Linked DNA regions of Homo sapiens. The protein of the gene in region 2 purifies or fractionates together with the protein of the main gene of each other region. This does not show direct contact. Each region holds a gene or a part of one and is shown on either strand. Other genes may lie near its edges. The genes, in order: CALML5, GPR18, SERPINB3 and POF1B.

Evidence for each region.
Region 1: the proteins of GPR18 (region 2) and CALML5 purify together in Homo sapiens (affinity purification with mass spectrometry; 3 studies listed by BioGRID and IntAct, with this or other methods). This does not show direct contact.
Region 3: the proteins of GPR18 (region 2) and SERPINB3 purify together in Homo sapiens (affinity purification with mass spectrometry; 3 studies listed by BioGRID and IntAct, with this or other methods). This does not show direct contact.
Region 4: the proteins of GPR18 (region 2) and POF1B purify together in Homo sapiens (affinity purification with mass spectrometry; 3 studies listed by BioGRID and IntAct, with this or other methods). This does not show direct contact.

Annotation. Positions count from the first base shown.
Region 1 is NC_000010.11:5,498,172-5,504,519, reverse strand, and holds CALML5 (calmodulin-like protein 5), read left to right. Parts: upstream 1-4,949; 5' UTR 4,950-5,081; coding exon 5,082-5,522; 3' UTR 5,523-5,823; downstream 5,824-6,348. UniProt on the Homo sapiens protein: Binds calcium. May be involved in terminal differentiation of keratinocytes.
Region 2 is NC_000013.11:99,255,352-99,262,277, reverse strand, and holds the start of GPR18 (N-arachidonyl glycine receptor), read left to right. Parts: upstream 1-3,898; 5' UTR 3,899-4,124; intron 4,125-5,758; exon of another isoform or gene 5,759-5,950; intron 5,951-6,371; 5' UTR 6,372-6,405; coding exon 6,406-6,926. UniProt on the Homo sapiens protein: G protein-coupled receptor (GPCR) that plays a role in diverse physiological processes particularly within the immune and nervous systems.
Region 3 is NC_000018.10:63,658,884-63,666,371, forward strand, and holds the start of SERPINB3 (serpin B3), read right to left. Parts: upstream 3,011-7,488; 5' UTR 2,963-3,010; intron 2,360-2,962; 5' UTR 2,334-2,359; coding exon 2,169-2,333; intron 1,974-2,168; coding exon 1,917-1,973; intron 645-1,916; coding exon 516-644; intron 1-515. UniProt on the Homo sapiens protein: May act as a papain-like cysteine protease inhibitor to modulate the host immune response against tumor cells. Also functions as an inhibitor of UV-induced apoptosis via suppression of the activity of c-Jun NH(2)-terminal kinase (JNK1).
Region 4 is NC_000023.11:85,278,652-85,285,680, reverse strand, and holds part of POF1B (protein POF1B), read left to right. Parts: intron 1-3,363; coding exon 3,364-3,478; coding exon of another isoform or gene 3,479-3,502; exon of another isoform or gene 3,503-3,566; intron 3,567-6,254; coding exon 6,255-6,260; 3' UTR 6,261-7,029. UniProt on the Homo sapiens protein: Plays a key role in the organization of epithelial monolayers by regulating the actin cytoskeleton. May be involved in ovary development.

The DNA.
Region 1 (6,348 bases), on a different chromosome or scaffold from region 2:
AGCTGAAGCCCTGAGAACTTAGAATTGCCACCCAGGTCTGCAGTGAGGATACTTCTGCTTTGCCCAGGAAGCAGCCTGGCATGTCACCCAGCAGAGAGCTGGCGCAGGCAGGGGGTGCAGGAGCTAGCAGGGGCTCTGCCTACTGAGTGCTTGCTCTCACCAGGTGCTGGGCGGAGGCTTTCCTGCAGGGCTTTGCCCCTCTCAAGTCTCCTATAAGGCAGGTGCTAGTACCATATTCTTCACCAGAGAGGCATGCAGCGTTTAGGGGTGAAACAGCTCACCCAGGCCACACAGGGAGCAAAGTGCAGAAGCCAGGAGCTCACCCCCAGTGATCTTACCACACGCTGTTGGGAAGACGTTGTGTGGTGTGTAGGGAAGGTGTGTGGTGTGTAGGGGAGGTGCGTGGTGTGTAGGGGAGGTGCGTGGTGTGTAGGGGAGGAAGGTGTGTGGTGTGTAGGGGAGGAAGGTGCGCGGTGTGCAGGGGAGGTGTGTGGTGTGTAGGGGAGGTGTGTGGTGTGTAGGGGAGGTGCGCGGTGTGCAGGGGAGGTGTGTGGTGTGTAGGGGAGGTGTGTGGTGTGCAGGGAAGGTGGATAGTGTCTAGGAGTACCCAGGAAAGGGGGCTCGGAGCCAGCTGCCTGTGCAACCAGCACAATCGCTCATCATTTCTATTTCTCATTGCTGAGGATAATCGCAAGGGAGATGAGCTCTGTGAAGCTGGGTCCCCCGTGTTCTCTTCCACAGATCACACCCTCCACACAGGCCCTTCTCATTTCCCTGGGGCTGCCCTGTCCTCAGAGAAGGTCAGGGCTGTGCCAACACTGCAGAGACAGCACAGGTGCCAGGTGAGATCAGTTTCTGCAAACACAGAAGTGTGAGGAGTTTCTGTGCTGGTTGAGGCTCCAAGGCCTGTTTGACTGGTTTCTCCACTCTGAGGAGCCAAAGTGTAGTGGAAGTGCCAGAGTGTGTTTTTGTTCCCGGGGTGAGTCTGGTGTGAAAGCTAGAGCTGGCCTTGCCTGAACAGGACAGCCACCCTACACCCTGCATATCTTCTCCCAACACACACACACATACATGCATGCACACTTGCACACACATGCAAACTTGTGCTCACATGCACACACAAACTCAAACCCACACACACATACATGCATGCACACTTGCACACACATGCAAACTTGTGCTCACATGCACACACAAACTCAAACCCACACACACATGCACACACAAATAGACATATACATACACACACAAAAACACATGTGCACACAGCTAATGCACAAGGCAGTCCCATGACTGATGATAACTCTCCCCTTCCTGCCTCTGGGGACCTGTCCAGCCACCTTGGAGAGGTTTTCATCCTTTCTATAGCAAGTTGCAGACGTCTTCAGTCCTCCTCAATGAAGGAGACTCCCTTTCTCCTCCAGGGTGGCAGGGAGAGTTGGCGTCTCCATGAGGGGCTCAGCTGACAGGCGCGGGAGAGGGGAGGAGAGCCCACCTCCAGCACTCAATCACAAAGCTGCCATCTCCCTGCAAACCCCCCCACTTCCCTCTTCTGTGCTGATCACGACCTTCTCTTTCTCACCTGGTCCCTGGATCCTTCTCTGCAAACTTCAGCCTGTCCCTCTGCTGCAGTTCTTCCCAGCCTTCTGCACCTCCCTTAGGCCCCTCGCACACAGCTCCGGGGGCAGCCACCACATTAGGGCTAGCTGGGGTATCTTCCTTCCTCTCACTTCCCTGCTGGGTTTGCTTCGCACATGGCCCCTGGGTCGGGGGAGCTCAGCTGTGGGATGTGGAGCCAGCGGCTGGGCACCCCAGCTTCAGGCTCCTTATGGAGTGGAGGACGGGTGATGCCCTTGGCCCCTGCATCACACAGGGATACACGCAGAAGGCGTCGCCTGAGAATGCACCTTAGCTAGAAAGAAGGGTTTCTCCCTCCTCAAAGCCAGGCTCTGCACCCAACTGCCGTGCTAAACCAGCCAAGGCAGAGGGGCTTGACCAAGCTTGCCTAGATTTGACAACAAATGCCATCTTGTCCCTCTTCGGGAGCCCCCATTTGGGCTGTGCCAGGCCGTCTGTGGTGCGGGTCACTCAGGCATGGCCGTCCTTGGTGTCCCTAGTGCTGAACCCAGAGGAGGGGAGTGGAAACTTCACCCACAGAGGCTGAGCCAAGGCAGCTGACGGCTTGCATACTTGCAAGCCACTTGTGGTGGGAGGCTGAGGGGAGGATGAAAAAAACAATCTCAGTGCTTGTACATGCCCTGAAAAGAGAATGTGTTAGGGAGGAAATGACCCCGGATGGGGAAACACGCAGCGGGAAGTCAGGGGACTTTCCCTATGGACACGGCCTCTCTCCATCTAGAAAACGCACATCGTGAGAATAGTGACCATCATCCTGTCTCGTGATGAGACAGCCTGAGGCTTTTTCTAAATAGGTGCTTCTGCTCTGCATGGAACTGCCTCTGTCTGGAGCTGACACTGAAAAGTCAGCTAATGCTCTGAGCCTTGGCATGTTGGACTTAACTAAACCTCGAGGTGGACGCATTTAATTTTTCCGTTCAATCAAAAGAGGTATAATCACAAAATTGTGAGATTCCCCTTCAAGTAGATGTTTTCCCGAGTGTTGGTTTACATCAAACATGAATCAGCTCGTTATTAACATGAGGTTTATCATAGAATAATAACACCTGCTGCTGGCTCTGTACTTAATATTCTGATCCTACACGCTCCGATCAGATATGGTGGGTGCATCATCCTAGTTTATAGATGTGGATATTGAGACACACGTTTCCACATCACTGACAAAACTGGAACCGGGAGCTCAAGTCTCCTAATATTGTTTGCAAAGTAGTATTTAATACCTGGGGAAAATGACATGAAATAATTATTAAGCCTTTGGATTTTAATCACAGGTCCCATCAACAAGATCAGAAGGAAAGGAAATTTCAACTATAGATTTAAATCTTCAGGTATTCTTTAAGGAAATAAAACAAGGAGCTGGGCTGAATCCAGCTATTCAGAGTCCCGCCCTCCCTGGGCCCCTCACCAGGCAGGATGCTTCTCTGTTCTCATCTCCTGGCCAGAACCACGTTCTCCACCCCAAACCGGTTGTCAATTTCATTGAGAAATTGGTTGCTCAATATTTATTGAGGCCTCTGTATTATTCCACCACTGAGGTGAGCTAGAAAATCTTCAAGCTATCTTTATAAAATGAGTTAGACAACTGGGACACTGCTCTCTGCATCTCTCTGTCTATGCTGGGTCCCCCTGAACTCCGGTGGGGTGACCCCCTTCCTTCCCTCTCCCTGCTGACCATGACCTTCCCTTTTGTACCTGGTCCACGGAGCTCCCTCTCTGCAGACCTCAGCCTCTCCCTCTGCTGTGGTGCTTCCGAGCCCTTTGCACCTCCCTCTGGCCCCTCACATGCAGCTCAGGGAGCAGCTGCCACACTAGGGCTGGCTGGGGCATCTTCCCTCCTCTCACTGCTCTGCCTGGTTTGCCCCTTGTGTGGTCCTGGGGGACTGAGCTGTGGGTCATGGAGTGCGTGGTTGGGCACCCCAGCCTCCGGCTTCCCTTGGAGAATGTGTGCAGCACCAAGGGGCTGGGAGGTGTTTGTCTGGCTGCACTTTAGGGAAGGAGAGGGCACTTGGTCTATTTGATGGGCTGAACAGGAGGGAGGTGGAATGTATAAACTTTCCCAGGGGAATAAAGGAGTTTGTTCCCTGTGTACGGGCAGGGGCTGGGGAGAAGAATGGGAATCTATGGAGATCAGAGGGGACTTGCTTGGGAAAGGCATTTTGGGGACTCCAAGGCAAATGTCCCCTCACAACTGTAGATCACATCAGTGGAAGGACTTGGGGATGGTCCCCCGAAAGCTTAGCTGTTGCTCTAAAAGTTGGTCAAGGCAAGTGGCCCTGGGGGTTTCCTTCCAGAGAACAGATCAGATTGAGGACCCCAGTAGGCTCCCAGATGGGTCTCTGTGCTTAGGGCTGATGCTTAGTAAAACCACAAGGAGGGCCAAGTTTGATGGCAGCCACCTGTTCTGCATCCTCCTGCACCTCTGCCTGCACCTTTGGGGTATGCTGGGCACTGAGGTCCCCCGTGTCTCGCTGCAGCAAAACTCCAGCTGTAACTGTTTGACGCCCTGTGAATGGAACGCCTGCCACTGAGCTCCCAGGGTGTCTGCACAGGGAACCTTGGACTTGGCGATGGAATTGAATTGTAGGAATCCCTGAGCTAGAAGGGAGTATTCTGGGGAGACAAAAAGTCTTTCCCTCTCCTCTGAAACTGCACGTCACATGTTCACTTGATAAACACCATCTCAGCACCAGCTATGGCTCTGAAGGCAGCCCTGGTCCCTTGCTTCCTTGAAGTTATAGGCAGTGAGCCCCATCCTCTGTCTCTAGACCCTGGCCTGGGAATCTCATGATACCCACAGTTGTGCCCTGGCAGAATCAACACTACCACCCACTTCCCTTCCACCAGCCCCAGCCTCAGGGCAAGAGCTAGGCAGTAGCACTGGAGAGAGGGGTACGGAAACACCAAACACTGGGGCCTGCTGTGCCCTTGAGGGAGCCCTCTTCAAGCCACCTCCCCCTCCAGTCTCAGTCTTTGTGAAGTTGCAGAAGCTGTCTTGAACCCCTTGGCTTGGTCAGGATCTCCGAGAATCAGCTGCAGGGGAAACTATCCCTTGGGCAGAATGTTCCTGGAGGGAGGTGGTTGCTATCAAGGCCAGGCGGGGTTGGCAGGCTAGCCATCCGATACCCCGACCCCATGGCAGTTCCCACCTGGCACCTGACAGCTCTCCCAACTCCCATTCCTGCATTTCCTGTCTGCAGCTGATCTGGCCCTCCCTGGGAGGAGGCTCTCACCCCAGGGCATTTGGAGGGTGGGGAGCCTCCCTCCTCCCTTTGTTCCGATTGCAGAAAAGGAGGGGGTTCCCATGCCAAGGCAGAACTGTCTGGGACAGACGCTGCCCGGATCCCTGCGGCTGCCTGCACTCTGGACCACGAGCTCTGAGAGCAGCAGGTTGAGGGCCGGTGGGCAGCAGCTCGGAGGCTCCGCGAGGTGCAGGAGACGCAGGCATGGCCGGTGAGCTGACTCCTGAGGAGGAGGCCCAGTACAAAAAGGCTTTCTCCGCGGTTGACACGGATGGAAACGGCACCATCAATGCCCAGGAGCTGGGCGCGGCGCTGAAGGCCACGGGCAAGAACCTCTCGGAGGCCCAGCTAAGGAAACTCATCTCCGAGGTTGACAGCGACGGCGACGGCGAAATCAGCTTCCAGGAGTTCCTGACGGCGGCGAAGAAGGCCAGGGCCGGCCTGGAGGACCTGCAGGTCGCCTTCCGCGCCTTCGACCAGGATGGCGACGGCCACATCACCGTGGACGAGCTCAGGCGGGCCATGGCGGGGCTGGGGCAGCCGCTGCCGCAGGAGGAGCTGGACGCCATGATCCGCGAGGCCGACGTGGACCAGGACGGGCGGGTGAACTACGAGGAGTTCGCGAGGATGCTCGCCCAGGAGTGAGGCTCCCCGCCTGTGTCCCCCTGGCTGCGCTCTGAGCCTTCAGGGCCACCGCCCGCTGCTGCTTTTGTGCTGGGACTCTCCGGGGAAACCTGGTCGGTGGATGGGAAACTGCCTCCCCCTGGGAGGAAGGCTTTGCGCTCCGGGGCCTGGATGCGGCGCCCTCGGGCCGCCTGCGAGCCCCTCTCTGCCTCCAGACCTTGGGCAGAAGGAGGCCTCCTTGGGCCTGGTCCCCCTTTGCCCTGCAGTGGAATGAGGGCCCCTCAGCCCCGCATTGATCTAAATAAAGGACTGCCGAGTTCCATGTGTGCTTGGTGTTTGTGGGGCGGCTGCCTCCGAGGGCCCCCACCTGCTTCCAGGGTTCCTTCCAGCCCACCCCTCTCACCTGCGGTGGCAGAACTGCCTGGAGCAGGCCCCAGGGGCAGCTCCTGCCTCCCCTGACGCGGAGCAGAGGGCAGGTGGGCAGAGGATGTGTGAGGATGGTGCTGGGCGGTGTCTGTGGCTCCAGGTTCTGCCTGAGCTGCTGGTGAGGACCTGGGCACGTGTCCCGCACAAACAGGAGCGGGCGCCTCGCATGGACAGACGGAGCCCAGCTGCCAGCCTCTGCACGCAGCCTGCCTCTCTTCGGCTGCAAATAATATACGTGTACGTCTGTGTGTGCATCTGTGTGTGTGTCTGTGTGTCTGTATGCGTGTCTCTGTATGTGTGCATCTGTGTGTAAGTCTCTGTATGTTTGTGTGTCTGTGTGTCCTTGTGTGCATCTGCATGTGTATGTGTGTATCTGTGTGTGTGTCTGAGTGTGTCTCTGTGTCTATGTGTCTGTGTGTGT
Region 2 (6,926 bases):
TTTTTCCTGTACATACATACCTATGATAAAGTTTAACTTATACATTAGGCTCAGTACCTTTGTGTTTTGGGACCATTATTAATTAAATAAGGGTTACTGGAACACAAGCACTGTGACACTGTGACAGTAAACCTGATCACCAAGGTGGCTATGAAAGTGACTAATGAGTGGGAATGTCTACAGTGTGGAGACACTGGGCAAAGGGAGGACTCATGTCCTGGGGAGGAAGGAGCGGGACAGTGAGAGATTTCATCCTGCTGCTCAGAATGGCATGCAACAGAAAACTTATGAATTGTTTATTTCTGGAATTTTTCCATTTAATATTTTCAGACCATATTTGACTGAAGGTAACTGAAGGTAACTGAAGCCTCAGACAGCAAAATTGCGGATAAGGGGACTACTGTATACCCATCTCCATTTGCACCTCTGGTAACTGTGAGATCAGAATGTGCAGCAGAAGGCTGTGTGCCTCACAATAACCATGGAGTTCTGCTCAATCTGCTGCCTTGGCGACTCTGGATCTCTCTTCCAATAGTAAAATGTCACACTGCAAACTCTGGGCCTGGGGTCCCATGGGACTTCAGTGGTTCCAGGACTGATTTCACTGCCATCACTTATATATGGTTAGATATGGATTCAACTTGTTTGCTGTGAGGTTAAGTGTCTGAATGTCTACATGTCTATACATCTTTAAAACTACACACAAAAATTGCTAAAGACAAGAAATTTGGGAATATTAAATTTACAATACAATTTAGGAAACCAAACAGAAAGGAGGTATACTAACTGGGTTAGAAGATTATAGCTGTAAATTGTTGGGACTTAAGAAAAACCACACATTTAGACAAATAGTTTCTCAATCTTCTTTATGCAGAAACTCTTACTATTCAACATATCTCCCCTACACCCACACCCAAAGAGCAGTCAGTTTAGATACAAGTTTGAGAAACAGAAAGGAGGGGACAAAGGTTGGAGGATGTCAAGGCCAAAGGATAGGCCTCTCCTCTAGTTCAGAGGACTCTTTGTCTGCCTCACACCCTCTTCTCCCTGGGGACTGGCTGTGTGCTGACTGTCCCCCTGCTGGGATACATGAACAGTAACAACAGTGGACCCCTGGTCCCCGCACTGATGGGAGGCAACAAGGATAAGCTGCCCTCACACTTGCTATGCTAACAGAACAGGAAATATTATTTTACCTGTGGCATAGACAAATGTCTAACATAGAAGCATATTTTATAGTGGGAATTTGCTATACAGATCTATTAACTACATTCTTTCTCATTAAAAACTGGCTTAACTGAATTATATTCACTCAAAAACTGGTTTATAGGGCTAAAATCAAAATTCACTTATGGCTTTTAATATCAAAACCAAAACCCAAAACTGCAGCTAAAACACACTATTTGATAAAGCAAAGGGAATCTTGCAGTCTCTGGGAATAAGTAAAATCCCTCTTTTGCAAGTGAAACATTTCTCCTTCACTCATATTCCAAAGTAAGTGAAGAAATTAAAGCTGCATGAATGGTCCCTGAATAAGTTCCTCTGTTTGGGGAAAAAAAAAAATTCATTAGGTTCAAGTATTAAAGAAACTTGTGTCTACATTATACAAGTTGAATCCTTGACCCATTGTTTACTTGCTGTCAAATGACTGGGCAGTTTCTTTTCACTATAATTCCCTGCCAACACAAAACCATCGCGAAGATCCAGGAGCACAGCGAACGGGGGTCAATGCTATAGGGCTCATGGGTTGCAGGGGAGGACGACAGACCTCAGGCCCTTGCCTAAGTCTCCCCATCTCATAAGCTGGTCAAAGTGTCCCTGCCTGCTGACTCAAGGCCCAGACATTTATCCATTCCTCCCCCAACCTCTCCATTTCTTCACCTACTTGTTCAGTCAGAAATTCAACCAATATTAAATGCCTCTTCTCTACACACATATGCAACACATGCCAACTCTCAAGGAATGCAATTTAGTGGAGGAGAAAAAGCAAGTAAATATGCAGTAACAATGCAAACATGTGCCACTACAGGGATAGGTACCAAGTGCTAAGGAAACCTGCAGGGATGAACAACCAGCCCAGCTTCGGAGGGCAGAGAAACCAGCCCAGCTTCGGATGGCAGAGAAAGCTTCCTGAAAAAGGTAGCTACAAGAACAAAGAGCAGCAGGCCATGCCATCAGGTGGGAGACAGTGGTGAGGAATGCCACAGTGGGTGGAACAGCATGTGAGAGGCAGGAAGAGCAAATGTAGCCAGTCCAGAGGGCTGGAATGGAGAGCAAGATGAGGAAAAAGTGAGAGCTCACCCCAACCTGAAGCCAGGCCTATGGAGAGCCCTCAGGTGCTCCTGGATGCCTCCTCTAAGAGTCTGGCAATTCAGAAACAAGAATGCCCCTGTGCACCGTGAAGAATTCAAGTCTTGATGAAAGGACTCTTCTAGACACATGCCATCAATGTATCTGTTGATTTTAGCAGCAATGGGGAAGCTAATCAATACTTAATTTTAGAAAAGTCCTAAGCTATGTGAATAAGGCAAAGGACAGATTAGGTCTGCATGCAGGCAGATTTCTGTCCAGCTGAAACATCAAACTCCTGTGTGATGAATGAAATATAACATCACATATAAAAAACTGATGAATGTGATTCAGCCATAAGAAGTCCTATCTAGTGGACAGATCAATATAATTACCTCATAAGAAGTTATTACAGCGGGAGAAACTGGACCTGGCTTTACCTTGAGTTCTTAAGCAAGTAACTGGCCTTCAATTTCTTCATCCACACAAGAAATAGTTGCTATGGTTGTCTCCAACACTTCTAAAACCCATCATTCTGGCAGGTTGTAACAATCAAAAGTATTTTATCACCAAAGGCAAGGATTTAAGTAACTTTTCTAAGCCACAGATTTACTATGGTTTTGTCTGAGAAAAAAAAAAAAAAGGATGGACCCCAAACTGTCTAAAATTCAAAAAAACAAATACATTTAAGTTCATGAACCCTTTAAAAAGTTGACAAACCATGCATAACCAAACATAAAGATAATTAAAATTTTAGGATAAGCAAATGAGAGATAATTTTTTTTAAGAAATGAGAAAGTAAAACAAAATTAACCTAACAAGGCAGGCAGCGATTCGTTGCTCACTTCCCTTTCTGCTGGTTTCATTTCCCTTCTTAGGTGAAAACACTCTTAATATGTAAATCAGTCCACTAAAGACTTCAGAGTCCTTTCTGCTAAGATTTGCAGAAATTTTTATGCAAAAGAAATTATTTCTAGACTTCCACGCACTAGAAAAGCAGACTTACAAAATACAGCAAACTAAAGTGGATAAATGTATGTGGCAAAGCAGAAGCAATTAATCAAGGATCCTACTTTTAAGCATTTAGAAATGTTTAAATAGTAAAAAGTGGAAATGTGGATATTCTATGATTTTTAATAACTTGGTAGTAAAAAGTGAGACTCCATTTAGGAGTACCTACTAAGTGCCAGGTACTATTAAGCACTTGGGATCTTTCTGGTTTAGGGCCCCTACAATCCTACTGGATATAGTATTATCTCTATTTCAACTGTACAGAAATGAAGTAGGAACAAAGGGTTAGTCAGAGTGGGTAGGTAACTAGACAAAGTCACATAGCTTATAAAGCAAAGAAGCTAGACTTTAAACCCCCTTTTACTCAATATCAAATCTTCTCTTTCCATAGATGATGCAGACTTCAAGCATCAAAGTACACAAACTGAAGAAACTTTATCCTTTGTATATAATTATCTTAAATATATGCCATCATTTCAAGGGGAGCTTATGCTAAGTGTGACTTCATAAACAAATCATTTGTGAAAGAGAAAAACCACATCCAGGGTAAAGTCATAAGGTGAAAAAGCCTATTTCAGAGAGCACTTCCTGAAAGAGACAAAGCAGCAATTAAAGTCAGCCCAGCACCAACTCCGACGCCAAGCGTTACACTGGAAACTACTTTTTAAAGCAACAAAAGAGTCTAAAACAAAATACAACATTTCTTAAATACACTGTTTCCAGAAAGAGCTATTTTAACAGAAGCAACTCAAAGATATCCCTTCGACAGAAGTGGAAGTGCTGAAAAATGCTCATCTCTCACACAGACTTTTGATGGACAGGAGGTAAGCAGCATTTAATTAACTTCATGATTATTGTCAAAAGTAATGCTTTATGTACTGCATTTCAAAAATCATTTCATTTTAATAATACAGGCTGGGCGCAATGGCCCACGCCTGTAACTCCAACACTTTGGGAGGCCAAGGCAGGAGGATCAGTTGTGCCCAGGAGCACCATAGTGAGACCCCGTCTCTATTAAAAAAATATATTTAATTAAAAAAATAAACATAACAAACTATGTTGGTGAAAGACCTTGAAATAGGCTATATAATCATCTTTCCACATTAATATGATTTTACATTTATTTTCAATATTGCTTTACATTAATACTAAATGTAATTTTTTTCAACTTAAGGAAAGAAAATGTTTATGGTAAATCATATGTATATTTAGGAATGTTCATCACATGTTTTCAATTACATTGTTTCATGAAATAACTTAATGGTTTTTAAGAAAAGAAAAGCTACAGATAATCATGGTATCTATAGCTTTTAAAAAGCTGACTTTAAAGTCAATCACTTTTCAATATTTATCCAAAAATTTCTGTGTTTGCAGAGCACAATCAATACTATAATGCCTTTAAAACACATGCATCACTCATTTTTTTTCAAACGTCAGCAAATGAATATAAGTATTGGTGACAAGCTACATAAAAACAGCTTGAGCATAACGTGGGAAAAAAGACTCAAGATGGTTTGTAAGTACAGGACTTATGTCACAAAATTGAAGGATGAGGATAGGTGAAGGGAGTCCTGATGCAATACTAAAAAAAGAAAAACAAATACAAAATTTCATTTATATTATAATTGCTACTATTTAATAAGAATGCATTCCAGTTAAAAATAAGATTTAAGCCTCCAAGATTACTCTCCTTTGAATGACACTAGAGATATAATTTTTCTCTGTAGCACTTTCCTCATTTGATAGAAATTAATATTCTAGTCACACCAATATTTGGAAAATTTAATATGTTTTTAAATATATAGAATTATGCTCCTAAATCATATTTAACCTAAATATTTGAGAAGGAAAGAAGGAGAAGAAGGGAAGAAAGGGAAGGGAAGGGAAGGGAAAGGAAGGAAGGCAGACAGGCACGTTTCTTGTGTTTAACCACAGCAATTGCTCAAGTTAATTCTTAATTATCAATAGCCCGTGATGCCACTGACCACAGACAGCAAATCTCCCCCATAGTTTTCCTTAAAGAGAAATTCTGGGCTGATTTCAAGACAGCCCACTCTGCAAAGTGACATTTTTGAAGGAAACTTTTCATCCACCTCCATATTACAAGGGGATGCCACAGATTCCATCTCATTGCAGCAAAGTCTATTTTTGAAGTCTGTTGTTGGTGTTGCATCATGGGGGAATGAAGTTTCACACTGAGGAGTCAATGATATTTGCAACCCCAAATAACCTCCTTTCCATTTAAAATGGACGGTTTTTTTTTTTTTGGTGATGGAAATTTATAAGTTTCTACATACACATCAAGTTACTGAATGACTTCTTATTAATATCTACTTGTCTTAGATACTCCTTTTTTGGATTTACTTTGAAAATTGTTAAAATTTAAATAATATTGAAGCTTCTGAATCTAGATGGAATGAGGATATGAAAGTTACTAACGGCACTAGCTTTTTTCAAGGTGCTGCTTTCTGTGAACCACTGAAGTAGAGCAGCTGAAATCACAAAACCTGGAAGACTTGGCTTTACGTACTCCCAATTGTGCACTAGAAAACAGCTCATCTATTGCTCTAACAGTCTAGTTCTTGATCTGCTGACCATGACACAAAACATTGCTGTTTCTCAACCTATGATAATTTAAAGAGAACATAAGGTAATAAATATTATGAAGTGTTTCCACTTTAAAAAAAACAAAAAGTTTAATAGCCAGCTACACAAGTCTTCATTTTCAAACTAGAGAATTACAAACTAGAGTTTTTTAGCAAAGTAGAGTTGCTGTGAATCATCTCATCAAAAGTTCCTTCATTTATTCATCAATTCAGTAAATATTTATTTATTGAGTACCTATTACATGCTCAATAGACAGTGGGGCTATAGCTGTAACAAAGGAAAAGTTCCCATTCTCTCTCAAATGAGAATTACTGTGAATGTTCAGTAGTTAACCAGTTGAATCGTTCCTTGATTAAATGCTCTCGAACTTAAAATTCACTGGCAGTCAAGCTGAGTGGGAGAATGTTAAGCATTTATTTTTTAACCAACGATTTTATTCTTATTTTTCTTAACTATTTTTACAGTTTCTAAGTATCATGCCTACCAACAAGCTGTAAAATGATCACCCTGAACAATCAAGATCAACCTGTCCCTTTTAACAGCTCACATCCAGATGAATACAAAATTGCAGCCCTTGTCTTCTATAGCTGTATCTTCATAATTGGATTATTTGTTAACATCACTGCATTATGGGTTTTCAGTTGTACCACCAAGAAGAGAACCACGGTAACCATCTATATGATGAATGTGGCATTAGTGGACTTGATATTTATAATGACTTTACCCTTTCGAATGTTTTATTATGCAAAAGATGAATGGCCATTTGGAGAGTACTTCTGCCAGATTCTTGGAGCTCTCACAGTGTTTTACCCAAGCATTGCTTTATGGCTTCTTGCCTTTATTAGTGCTGACAGATACATGGCCATTGTACAGCCGAAGTACGCCAAAGAACTTAAAAACACGTGCAAAGCCGTGCTGGCGTGTGTGGGAGTCTGGATAATGACCCTGACCACGACCACCCCTCTGCTACTGCTCTATAAAGACCCAGATAAAGACTCCACTCCCGCCACCTGCCTCAA
Region 3 (7,488 bases), on a different chromosome or scaffold from region 2:
AAACTGCAGAGCAGGCTTCCCTGAAGGAGATTCATTGCTTCTCAGACCTCTTTCCAGTAATTTCAACCATGATGTTTCTGATCTTTGTTTTTATCTTTCATCCTGTGCATTCAGTATTTCCTGGTACTTCCTCAACTATTCTCAGGAACTCACCCAAGCCTGCCCATTCCAATAATATCCCATTAGTCATACATTTCCCACCAAGATGTATCGTATGTGACTGAGTCAGTGCCAGTTTATCGATGGTATCTTATTACTTATTACTCTTACTCACTCTATTACCCAACCTCCTCTTTTATTACAAGATTATCCCTAAATCCACACTTCAGTGATGTATTGTTAGGGTCTGGGACACTCCAGTGGGGGAGAGTTGTGGAAACGGAGCTATTGCACTCTGAGTAAATGCTCTCCACCTGGATCGGTCAGGCTCATCTGCCTTGCTTTCTTCCATTTGGCCACTCAGAGACACAGACATCAGGATGCAAATGAAATGTGGGTAGGCCAGGTGAAATTACCTGTAAAAATAGATACGTTTTTTCTCCGAAGAGCTTGTTGGCGATCTTCAGCTCATATGCATCAGTGGATTTGTTGAATTCAGTCAGAAGCTTTTGAAACTGGTGATGAACATTTCCTGACCTATCAACCTTCAAACATCAAAAAAGGAGATCATTCAATTGCTGTATCAATGTAAATACTAAACCCATGCTAAGTCTGTTAGATCAGTCCCTAATGGCTGGTAGTCTCAATGAGGACCTTTGAGCTTATTCCCTGATACTTGGTGTATTTCACCTCAAATACCCTTCAAAATCCACCTTATGTTTCACTTCTTCCAGGAAATTCTTCTTGCTCTAATGTACTGCAATCTTTTCTCTTCTGAACTATAGATGCAGCACTGTCTACCACTGGATTTTGTCCTTGTTGGTTTAAAGGGTTAGGTTTAGCTTCCCAGTTAAACTCTCAGCTCCTTAAAGGCAAGGACCATATTTCACTTCTAACAGTCATCAAGGATATGAGTATGTTGAAGGTTGGATATTTTAAATAGATTATGCCAGGAAGCCCTGTTATACCTGTTGGTGCTGTTATCTTGTAGGACACATTGACTGATCTGTGACTGTTTCCTCATGATGGTCATTCTCTGCACGTAAGAAGAGTGTGTGCCAGGTACATGGCTAAGGACTTTACATGGGTAACTTTAAGTCTTTAGTTCAATTCAGGTGAAAACAAGAAAGCTCAGAGAATGGAAAGTAAACCTCTTCATAGAGACATAAATTAGAAGTGCCACGTTTTGAACCTAAGCCTGTTTAAATCTAGAAACTTCTACTTTCCAGCAAAGCATTTTGCACTATTAAGGCTCTAAACCAATATATTCCATAGCAATCATTTTCCAAAATATAGTTGGACTTGTGCTTATTCCTCTTTATCTCATTAATGACTCAATGAAAATTAAATATTTTGCAACATTATTGTGATTAGTATAATTATAGCTATTTTATAATAATAATAACATTTATTATGACATTTTATGGGCAAGGCAATGTTGTAAACATTTGCATGTATTTGCATGTATTGAGTCAGATTTCTTATTACCCTTAGTTTTCTGGGATGAGGTCACTGGGACTCTGAGCAGTTGTGTCCTGCTCATGTTCACCATTTGTGAAGAGCAAAGCTGGAGTCTGAACCTAGCCTATCCTGATCCAGACCTATGCTCTGAGGTACAGTGCTGACTGTCTTTCAGTAACGAAGAAAGGAGGAATAATAATTATGTGCCATGAAATGCCAACCCACTCTGTATGTCTCAATCTTTGTGTCCAAGATTTTCCCTAAAAATGGCCTTTTCTTAGTTTCTGTGAAGTTCCAGGTTCAAACTATGACCTGTTCGGGGATCTAAAGCTGAACCATAGTGCTCTGTGACTCACATGATATGTTGCAGCTTTTCCTGTGGTGTTCTCTGTGACTTGATCAAAGTGAAGAACCTGGAAGAGACATGAAGCGGGACAAGAAAACTTTACTCAAAAGATCTGTTTAAGTCAGTGGTCTCACAGTTACGGGAATTCCTGCTCAGCCCCCTGTGCTACCCATCAGACCACCACATCTATTACCATCTGCGTGCTAGCCGACGGAACCAGAGAAAAACTGCAACAGGACAACATAATGATGCTGATAGCTACCTTCTTAATCTGTTGTGCAGTGTTGTCTTTGGCTCCTAAGAGGACCATCCCTAATGCTGATGTGATGCTGATAGGGGAATAGAAGATGTTGTTCTCTTTTGATTTTCTGAACTGTTGGAACAGGTCGAACATGAACTTGGTGTTGGCTTCACTGAGTGAATTCATGGTGAACTCGATGTGATCTGGAACTCCTGGAAAAGCATCAGATTCCTGTCAGAATGACTTTAATAAATGGAATGGTATTTTGTAGTACAATTTTCTTAAAGAAATTATATATCTGTGTTGTGAGATTTTGACATTTAAAGTTTTCCTCATCTTATTTTTAACGTTTCAATCTTTCTACAATGTGCATATATTAAATATATTAATGTCTTAATTAGAAGCCTCACAAAATTAGTGTTTTTAAAGACTACTGTAAATAAGTAATAGACCCTCTTTCCTTCATTGCTGGCTACACTAGGGCTAGGTAGGAAGGCTTTACAATGAATGCTAACAGGAGACCTCTGTGGATCACATCCAACCAGCTGTTAAGATGCGTCCCTGACATCTCCTTCAAGACTCTCTGGCTGCAAGGCACTCTCCCTCTGTGTTCCTAAAAGTGCCTTGGTTTACTTGGAACTAAGCAATTTAGATAAAGGACAAATCAGATGAAATAGGTATTTTAATTTTGCTCTGGCAGAATAAGTAAAATATAATCAGACAGAATGCAGGAGATGCATGATATAGAACACAGTATCATTATTATTCTCAAAAATAATTCATGTTATTAAGCTGGAGAGGCTTGAAGCTCTTACCTGTGTTCCTAGAGGAAGCAGAGGTGGGCAGAGAGGCTATGTGTGTCTGTGGAATGAAGGGTGAGATCCTGAATTTATGCCTCTCCTCTTGCTGCCTCTCCCTCTGTGGTTAGTATTTGAAGTTACTCAACTTCAGATTTCACAAGCGGGCTAACACTCACCTTTATGAATACGAAAATTTATGACAAAGGACAGGATTACAGTTCTACCATTGTACCTCCTTTTTAATCTATAGGGAAAAAATAAGAATGCAAGTCAGCAGTCACCGGCTCATGTGAAATACATGTAGGTGCCTTTCTAATGCCAATGAGAATAAGTTTAGAATTCCAATTTCCTCTCATTTGTTTCAACTCCATCCCTTTGTATTCTACTCCAGCTGTAAAACAAAAACAAAAACAAACAAACAAAAACCCCACCATTCTTTTCTTGGATTTTGCATTGTCTTTTAGGCATACTTCGAATACCAAAGAACTAAAAAGCTTACATTTCCTGTTTTTCAGTTCTGAAAGTTTTTGTCATCCTATGAATTTCCTTAGTAATTTTTCTGTATAACAAGGAATATAGTGCTAATTCTAAGTCCAAAGAGATAGTGAAGAAGTGTACTTCAGTATCTTATAGCATACTATGGAGAATAGGATTCTATTGCCTTCTCCTGAATGCTCAGCTTTGGCAGTGATCCTACCAGTCACTTCCTGTGCCCCTTACAACCATCCCAGATGGTTTTCTGTTGCATAGGCTCAGTGAGAAAGTTATCTGCCTTGCTGAGTGATATGGTTTGGCTGTGTTCCCACCCAAATCTCAACTTGAATTGTATCTACCAGAATTTCCACATGTTGTTGGAGGGACCCAGGTAGAGGTAATTGAATCATGGGGGCCGGTCTTTCTTGTGCTATTCTCATGATAGTTAATAAGTCTCAGGAGATCCAATGGGTTTATTAGGGGTTTCTTCTTTTGCTTCTTCCTCATTTTCTCTTGCAGCCACCATGTAAGAATAACTTTTGCCTCCTACCGTGATTCTGAGGCCTCCCCAATCACGTGGAACTCTAAGTCCAATTAAACCTCTTTTACTTCCTAATCTCAGGTATGTCTTTATCAGCAGCATGAAAACAGACTAACACATTGAGTTAACAGGCTGACACTGAGAAGAGCAATTGAAACAGACGGGCCATTTTGAATGTCAGCTTTCTAATTTTTCATTTAAAAATTAAGCAGAAAAAGAAGTTGCTTGACCTGTCAGGATCACAACGTTTCTTGGTGGTCCTTCCATTTAGCACCTGGCTTCAGACTCATTCCAGTGTTTCCTCTGGAATATCTTGTAATCTGAAGAATGTCTGTGGCCAGGGAGAGGGTTGTTGTCCAAGGCCATTTAATCCAATATCTCCCTGACAACCAGAGTGGGGGGCTGTTTGTTTTGTGGACCCCCTTTTTTAACATATAATTTATATGCCACAAATTCAACTGTACAATTCAATGATTTTATTATATTCACAAAGTTGTGCTATCACCATCATGATCTCGTTCCACAACAATTTCACTACCTCCAAAAGAAAACTTGTATCTCGTTCTTCCCTTACTCGAGACCCTGGAAACCAGTAATCTACCTCCTGTTTCTATGGATTTGCCTATTCTAAACATTTCACGTAAATCGAATCATACAGTAAGTCCTTTTGTGACTGGCTTCTTTCATCTAGTATTATCTTCAAGGTTTGTCCACGTCATTGCATGGATCAGTACATCATTCCTTTTTGTGGTCGAATAATATTCCATTCTATGAATAGACCACATTTTCTTTATTCATAAGTTGATGGACATTTGTGTTGTTTCCATCCATTTACTATTATGAATAATGATGTTTTGACTTTTCATGTACATTTTTTTGCATGGCATATTTCTTCATTTCTTTTGAGTATAAACCTATGAATGAAATCGCTGGGTCATATGGTAAATCCAGGTTAACATTTTGAGGAAATGCCAGACTCTTCTCCATAGAATTCTGCACAAGTGTGCATTCCAACCGACTGTGAATAGAGTTCTGATTTCTCCACATTCTCCCCAACACTTGGTATTGTCATGGGCCCTTTTTAACACCAGCCATGAGTTTGTTTTCTCAGCACATCATGAAGTCAAGGGAGATTCATCTACAACAAGGTTCCGGAAACAGATAGGATGAAGTAGGGGCTGGACGGGAGAAAGGAAGCTGTGTTTCCAATCTGGAAGTTTCTCACCTGCCTGTTTCCTCAACCCCCAAGACATGCTCTTCTTAGGTCTCCTGTATCAATATATATGTTTGGAGTCTCTGAATGAGTTTGGGAGGTATAAGTTCCCTGATTTAAGTTGGGTAATAGACTAATGGGGTGTTGATGATCTAAAAAGCTCAAAGATAGGAGAGAAAGAAACAAGAGGAAATATCCTAGATGAAGAATTCCAAAAATGAATAATGGTCTTCTTAGCTGAGTCTGCATCCAGGGCTGTAAGAGAAAAATGGACCTTCCTGTATATGGAGAAGGATGGGTTTACTTGGGTACCAAAGCGAAGGAATCTAACGTCTCATAGGACAGAAGCAAGAAGCTCAGCCTGGGAATAGAGGGGAATAAAAAGCAGGATAACAAGCTGAGGCAAACTGGGATTACAGGGGACCAGTCTATGGAAGAGAATTTCAGACTATGGCTAAATCTTCTGAGATGCTGAGGTTTGTCATGAAGGTTGAACTTGAGGAAAGGTACTAACTGAAAATGACCAGGAGTTTGCTTAAATTTAGAGAAAGCTTGGATGAGTTCAAATGAGAAACCATTTCAGACATTTTTTTCTGTTCCTAAAAAGTACTCCTGGCATGTGATAGACATTCTTGACAGGACATATCCTGATGTGCGAGATGGGACATATCCTGATGTCATATATTGCCACAGAGAGCTCAGGAATTCCAAGAAGTTTTTTGCATGTGAACACTTGCCAACTTATGTATCTTGGCATTTCATAAACCTATGCCAACTTCATTGGATCCAGGAATCCAGAAATTAAAAACAAATCCTCAATGGGAAATTACACTTTCAGGAAATATCCTGTCATTACTAATGTCTTTATAGGTTGGTTAACAAATATCTCCTAGATTTTCCTGGACCTCACTTCCTTATGAAGGCTGTAAAGTTTTCTCAGCATTGTGAAGTTACAAATTAAAGAGAACATTTATTTATTGTTTCTTACCTATGTGCTTGTGCCTATCTATAGGGAAACTGGTTAGTGGAAGAGATTTTTCAAGCATCAAATAACAGAATATATGCCAATTACTGTATTCCCAAGGATCTCTCTACAGATGTGAATATGTATATATTGAACAACCTCAGAATAAGATTAACTAGCTTTCCTTTCTTAGTTTTCATGAGGGAAAACAACTCCAGTAAGGTTTGAAAAGCAGAGCGGGAAATAGTCTCACATGTATGTTGCAGGAAGTCAGGGACCCTGAACCGAGGGACTGGCTGAAGCCATGGCAGAAGAACATAGATTATGAAGTTTTCATGGACATTTATTAGTTCCCCAAATTAATACTTTTATAATTTCTTATGCCTGTCTTTACTGCAATCTCTGAACATAAATTGTGAAGATTTCATGAACACTTATCACTTCCTCAATCAATACCCTTGTGATTTCCTATGCCTGTCTTTACTTTAATCTCTTAATCCCATCATCTTTGCAAGCTGAGGAGAATGTATGTGGTCCCAGGACCCTGTGATGATTGCATTAACTGCATAAATTATTTGTAGAGCATGTGTGTTTGAACAATATGAAATCTGGGCACCTTGAAAAAAGAACAGGATAACAGCAATGTTCAGGGAACATGAGTGATAACCTTAAACTCTGACCGCCGGTGAGCTGGGTGGAACAGAGCCATATTTCTCTTCTTTCAAAAGCAAATGGGAGAAATATCGCTGAATTCTTTTTCTCATCAAGGAACATCCCTGAGAAAGAGAATATGCCCCTGAGGGTAGGCCTTTAAAATGGCCGCTTTGGGGGGCAGCCGTCTTTTATGGTTGAAGCTGTAGGGATGAAATAAGCCCCAACCTCCCGTAGCGCTCCTAGGCTTATTAGGATGAGGAAAGTCCCATCTAATAAATTTTTGGTCAGACCGGTTGTCTGCTCTCAAACCCTGTCTCCTGATAAGATGTTATCAATGACAATGCGTGCCCGAAACTTCATTAGCAATTTTAATTTCACCCAGGTCCTGTGGTCCTGTGATCTCACCCTGCCTCCATTTGCCTTGTGATATTCTATCACCTTGTGAAGCACGTGATCTCTGTGACCCACACTCTATTCGTACACTCCCTCTCCTTTTGAAATCACTAATAAAAACTTGCTGGTTTTGTGGCTCAGGGGGTATCATGGAACCTGCCAAACTGTGATGTCTTCCCCAGACACCCAGCTTTAAAATTTCTCTCTTTTGTACTCTATCCCTTTATTTCTCAGACCAGCCGACACTTAGGGAAAATAGAAAAGAACCTACGTGAAATATCAGGGGTGAATTTTACCTGATA
Region 4 (7,029 bases), on a different chromosome or scaffold from region 2:
ATGCTATCCCTTCCCCCTCCCCCCACCCCACGACAGGCCCCAGTGTGTGATCTTCCCCAACCTGTGTCCAAGTGTTCTCATTGTTCAATTCCCACCTATGAGTGAGAACATGTGGTGTTTGGTTTTCTGTCCTTGCGGTAGTTTGCTCAGAATTATGGTTTCCAGCTTCATCCATGTCCCTACAAAGGACGTGAACTCATCCTTTTTTATGGCTGCATAGTATTCCATGGTGTATATGTGCCACATTTTCTTAATCCAGTCTATCATTGATGGACATTTGGGTTGGTTCCAAGTCTTTGCTGTTGTGAATAGTGCCACAATAAACATACGTGTGCATACGTCTTTATAGCAGCATGATTTATAATCCGTTGGGTATATACCCAGTAATGGGATGGCTGGGTCAAATGGTATTTCTAGTTCTAGATCCTTGAGGGATCGCCACACTGTCTTCCACAATGGCTGAACTAGTTTACAGTCCTGCCAACGGTGTAAAAGTATTCCTATTTCTCCACATCCTCTCCAGCACCTGTTGTTTCCTGACTTTTTAATGATCGCCATTCTAAGTGGCCTGAGATCACTGTGGTTTTAATTTGCATTTCTCTGATGGCCAGTGATGGTGAGCATTTTTTTCATGTGTCTGTTGGCTGCATAAATGTCTTCTTTTGAGAAGTGTCTGTTCATATCCTTTGCCCACTTTTTGATGGGGATGTTTGATTTTTTCTTGTAAATTTGTTTGAGTTCTTTGTAGATTCTGTATATTAGCCCTTTGTCAGATGGGTAGATTGTAAAAATTTTCTCCCATTCTGTAGGTTGCCTGTTCACTCTGATAGTAGTTTCTTTTGCTGTGCAGAAGCTCTTGAGTTTAATTAGATCCCATCTGTCAATTTTGGCTTTTGTTGCCATTGCTTTTGGTGTTTTAGTCATGAAGTCTTTGCCCACGCCTATGTCCTGAATGGTATTGCCTAGGTTTTCTTCTAGGGTTTTTATGGTTTTAGGTCTAACATTTAAGTCTTTAATCCATCTTGAATTAATTTTTGTATAAGGTGTAAGGAAGGGATCCAGTTTCAGCTTTCTACATATGGCTAGCCAGTTTTCCCAGCACCATTTATTAAAAAGGGAATCCTTTCCCCATTTATTGTTTTTGTCAGATTTGTCAAAGATCAGGTGATTGTAGATGTGTGGTATTATTTCTGAGGGCTCTGTTCTGTTCCATTGGTCTATATTTCTGTTTTGGTACCAGTACCATGCTGTTTTGGTTACTGTAGCATTGTAGTATAGTTTGAAGTCAGGTAGCGTGATGCCTCCGGCTTTTTTCTTTTGGCTTAGGTTTTTCTTGGTAATGTGGGCTCTTTTTTGGTTCCATATGAACTTTAAAGTAATTTTTTCCAATTCTGTGAAAAAAGTCATTGGTAGCTTGATGGGGATGGCATTGAATCTATAAATTACCTTGGGCAGTATGGCCATTTTCACGATATTGATTCTTCCTACCCATGAGCATGGACTGTTCTTCCATTTGTTTGTGTTCTCTTTTATTTCCTTGAGCAGTTGTTTGTAGTTCTTGAAGAGGTCCTTCACATCTCTTGTAAGTTGGATTCCTAGGTATTTTATTCTCTTTGAAGCAATTGTGAATGGGAGTTCACTCGTGATTTGGCTCTCTGTTTGTCTGTTATTGGTGTATAGGAATGCTTGTGATTTTTGCACATTGATTTTGTATCCTGAGACTTTGCTGAAGTTGCTTATCAGCTTAAGGAGATTTTTTACATTTTTTTTAAAAAAGTACTTTAACAATATTGCTCTTCTGTCTTCTGACTTTCATTGTGACTGAGAAGTTTTTTGTTAATCTTATGATTTTTGTTCTTTGAATAATGTCCTTTCTTCTCTGAGGCTGTTTTTAAGATTCTCTTTCACTGGTTTTCAAGAATTTGATAATGATGTGCCTCTCTGTAGTTTTCTTCATGTTTCTTTTTTTCACGTTCACTGAGCTTCTTGGATACGTGTGTTTATAGCTTTACATCATGCTTGGAAATAATTTGGTCATTATGTCAATTATTTTTTTCCACCACCAATCCTGCAGGACTTTAATTATATATATATGAGGACATTTGATATTTTCCACAGTTATTTCATGCTGCATTCATTTTTTTCCGTTTTCTTTTATGTTTTATTTTAAATTATTTATTTTGATGTATTAAAATTTATCGGTCTTTTTGTAATGCAGTGCCTAATCTGCTGTTAACTCCACCTAATTTTTTTAATGTTTAGTAGTCCAATGTGGATCTTTTTTATATTATCTATTTCTCTCCTGTGTTCATGCTTTCCTCTAACTTCTTGAATATACCTTGTATATTTTATATGTTTCTAATAGATGCACATTTACCTACTAATTTTTTTATCAGTGTTGTCTCTTGGTCTGTTTCTACTAATTTATATTTCTCTTCATTATTAGTCGTATCGTCCATTGCATGACTATTCATTTTTCGTTGAATGCCATGAATTGTGATTTTATATTGTTGAGTTTTAGATTTTCGCTAGGGTATTACTTAAAATATTTGGAGTTTTGTTCTGAGATGAAATTATTTGGAAACAATTTAATACATCCAAGCCTTGCTTTTAAACTCTTTGAGAATAACCTGTACTTTGAGGCTAATTTTATCCCACTACTAAGGCAATATTCTGCAGTATCTATCTGATGGCCTCTATATCAGGAGAGCTTTTCACTCTGGTTTTGTTAGTGGAACACAAAACATTACCATCCCTATGAGAGCTCCCAAAATTGCCAGCCTGCTCCTTTCTAGTCATTATTTCCTAAGTCTTGGTAGCTTCTTCACATACAGGCACACTGATCAGTTTTCACCCAAAGGCTTTTGGGAAAACCTCTACAGCTGTCCTGACCTCTCTCTATCTATGTAGCTCTCTTCTGTCTGATACTCTGCCCCACAAACTCTGGGTGCCTTTGCCTATATTTACTCTAAACTTTATCACCTTATCTTGGTGAGACTGCTGGGATCTGTTTAGCTTCCTTTTACTTATCCCGTGACCAAGAAAATCTCTCCAGGCAGTGAGCTAGGCACTTGTAGGGCCCATATCATTTGCTTCCCTTTTCTGGGGTCACTGTCCTGTGCTGCCAGTCGTCCATCATGGCCAGAAACAGAAGTCCCTCTATTTTATTTTCTTGAAAATAATGGTTGTACATCTCTGTCCATTGAAATAGGGTTTTTTTATTTTTTTGTTTTTTCAGTAACAGTTAAAAAGTCATTCAGAGCCGAATTGGCTTAATTAGGGCAATCAAACTAGGAGTGACTAAAAAGGAATGAAAGTTATTTTCTCATGCAGCCTGTAAACTAACTCTTTTCTTGCCAACAGGTACAGGACACAATATCCAATCCTAGGCCTCCTATATGATGACTACGAATATATACCACCAGGTAGTGAAACACAGACTATTGTGATTGAGAAAACAGAAGACAAATACACTTGTGTAAGTTCACTTGGGCATTTTTAGCCCTATTTTGACGATATATGTACAGCCTTTTAAAATTGAGGTAAAATATCAAATGAACTAAAAACTTTGAGTATTTTTTTCTTTTGAGATTTTCTGTTTCCATTATTGATATACAGTGGGAATTAACAAATTTTGGAAAGATTCATACATGTGGCAATATAATTGATTATTTAAGCTATAATATAAATATAATTTTTGCCCCTCAAAAGGAAGAAGATTAACATTAGTGATATGCTAATTTTATTTATTTTCTTGCCTAGCTCGGTAGTTATTGAATGGGTTCCATTAAAATTTTCCAAAACAGTTTCCCTTTTTCTAAAGCAGGTAGCAAATATCATAGACAATTATGAAGGCAACTGGAAAATGGAGAAGAGGCATGTTTCAATAGAATTTGTCTTGCAATCTTGCATGTGGTACTTATTCCTGTGGATTTTATATATATATATATTATATATATTAGGATTTAGAAAGAAGAGATGTTTCTAGCTTCCTCACTAGACTGTAACATCCTCCAGCCTTAAATCCCACAGTTATAGTGAGGTTGCTGAAGAGTACTTTAAACATCATATACTCCAATATTTACTCTACCTTCTACAACATCCTCCAAAATGGCCAGGTGACATGGACCTTAGCATCTTTCTAAGTGGTCCAATCCATTGCTAAGGGGACTGATTATTGAAACCTTCTTATAAAGGACTGAGAGCTACTTCCCTAAAACTTTTACATATTGCTCTATTAACTTTTAAAGTAATGATCATCAAATAGGGGATATATAGTTGTCCCTCAATATCCATGAGAGATTGGTTCCAGGATCCCCTACAGATATCAAAATCTGTAGATGCTCAAGTCCCTTATCGGCATAATATTTGCATATAACCTATGCACATCTTACTGTATACTTTAAGTCATTTCTAGCTTACAATAACTAATTCAATGTAAATTCTAAGTACGTGTCATACCGTCTTGTTTAGGAGGTAATAACAGTAAAAAAAAAAAAAAGTCTGTACATGTTCAGTACAGAAATGATTTTTTTCCTGAATATTTTCAACCCATCATTGGTGGGGAACCCATGAATACCAAGGGCCAACTATATATTCCCTAGCACAGTTGCTCTCTACAGCAACAATTTTGTACCTTACGGGACATTTAGCAATGTCTAGAGACATTTTTGGTTTTCACAACCAGAGGGGTGGGTGTTATTGGCATCTAGTGGTTAGAGAACTAGGATGCTTCTGAACATACTACGATGTGCAGGACAGTCTCCCATAACAAAGAATTATCCAGCCCCTAATAAGTAGTGTTGAGGTTGAAAAACTCTGCTAACAGAATGCTCTTGGGTTTTTTTCCTAATTATATACTCCTACACTGGTGCAAGAGATTCTAATAGTAAGCCACTGGTAGGGATCATAGGAATGTGTGATATCCTTCTGGTGAAATGAACAGAGAAATGTTTGAGGATTCTAGTTCTCAAATCATACAGATCTGACTTAAAACATTGTGAAAATGACAGCCTTTGACTTCTTATGATAAAATTATCTACCTGTCAAACTACTGAGGTATAAAAGTAGGCAAAACTAAATCTATGGCTATTAAATGAAGAAATGGTTATCCTTGTGGGATGGATACTGATTAAAAGGAAGCATAAGGAGAGATTCAAGGTCTTAATAATGTTCTGTTTCTTTATCTGGGAGATGGTTACATATGCATGTTCGGTTTGGGAAAATTCATTTATTTGAATACTTATAATATGTCCATTTCTTTCTACATGTTTATTGTACTTCAGTAAAAGCCTTAAAATGCTTAAGTGTACCGTGGTGAGCAATAGACAAATATACAAATATCAATCCAGTATTCTGCAGAACCTTTTGAAAAATATTTAAAAATTATGCTTCAGATGTATAGTTAATAAAATTAAACATCTAAACATCTGTTAAATAACTTCTAGAAACATCTTTTGGTTGAACAAGCTCAAATATTTGAGTCAACAAAAAAATTCAAAAAGTTTCTTTAGAGCTGAAGCCCTTCTTTAACTACAATCCAGCCATCAATCTTTTAAGTATGGTTGTTATCATCAATGAAAACAACCAATGTTTAGTAATCCCAAAGTAAAAATAACTGCATTTAAACTCTGAAATGTTGTTTTTGTTAGGTCATTAGTTAGCTGAAAATTACTTACTACTAATTATTAACCCATAGAATTTAAAATTGGCCACTCAAAGATAATTTGATGCCCAAAGTTAAGACTGAGAAGCAATTGCTGCCACTAACCCTAACCACATGTATCCCAGAGGTGGCAATATGAAGACCTGCCAAATAAAGTTTCTACAGAATAGTAGCCACTACTTCTCTCTCCATTAAAAATGTGCAGCAGTAAAAATCAAAATTGATATTTGAAGAATCTATAGATACTGATAGCAAGGTCAGAATATATTTAAATGCATTCACAGATGAAAATCCATATTTATTAAGAGACAATTGGACATATTTAAACTCTAAATATTACTAAGAAGGAAATCTACTTAATTGTCCTTCACTCTTGCTTAAAGTCATTTGAAACATACCATGAGTAAAGTAAGAAAGACAAATCATTGTTTCATTGAATATATATATATAAAAGAGTGCCACAAAAGTGCAATACATGTCCTTTGGTTTTATACATACCAATTTAAATAATTTTCCATAACTTTGCATATAGTAACAATGACTTTAATTATGAACCAGTTGTAAGATAACCTTTTTTTTTCTTTTCTAGCCATGAATGGATCCACTTTAAAGTATTACAACTCAAAGCCGTTTTTTTTTTGTGTGTGTGTCTCTGCATTAGTACTTTGTTATTTTTCCATCACTAAAGGCCAATCAGAATTTGGAACCATGCTGCTACCCAAGAAATCTAATGGAATGAATTAGTTCTGTAGATGACAATTTCTTCACCCATTTATGAGACCTAAATCTTTTCCATAACACTCATGTATTCAGTATAACAACATACTAACTGAAAGAGGGACCTGATTGTTTAAAGTTTGATTGCAGACACTGTAGAACATAACTCATTATGTTTCAGATAAGGTAACTCCTAGATATCAAACTAATTTGTTGGGGTAGAGATTTTACAAGTCATGCCATTAGAAGATTTTCTCTGATATTATATGTGCAGTTCAGTTACAAGATGAAATCATGTTTTTTTAACAAAAGAGATAAAATACAATTGAAGCAAAAAATAACAGCTAGTATATAATATATACAGTCTGTATTTGCTTTTCACAGTAGGCCTGATGACTAAAAGATATGCTTTATTACACGCTATTTTCACCTCTTGAAAGTCAAAGGTGATGATTAATTTCATTTAGCAGGGAAGTGGAATAATATCTTTTGAAATAACTAAGTCCACTAAATTATACAGTATGCTATTCTGGTTCTAAGTACATATTAGTCCCTTGGCAAATCTGTTCTTTCAAAGCATACCTTCCCCAAATGAGCCTACCTACTTCTTAAAAAACATATAACACAATGTGGTAGTAGTAGGTGTA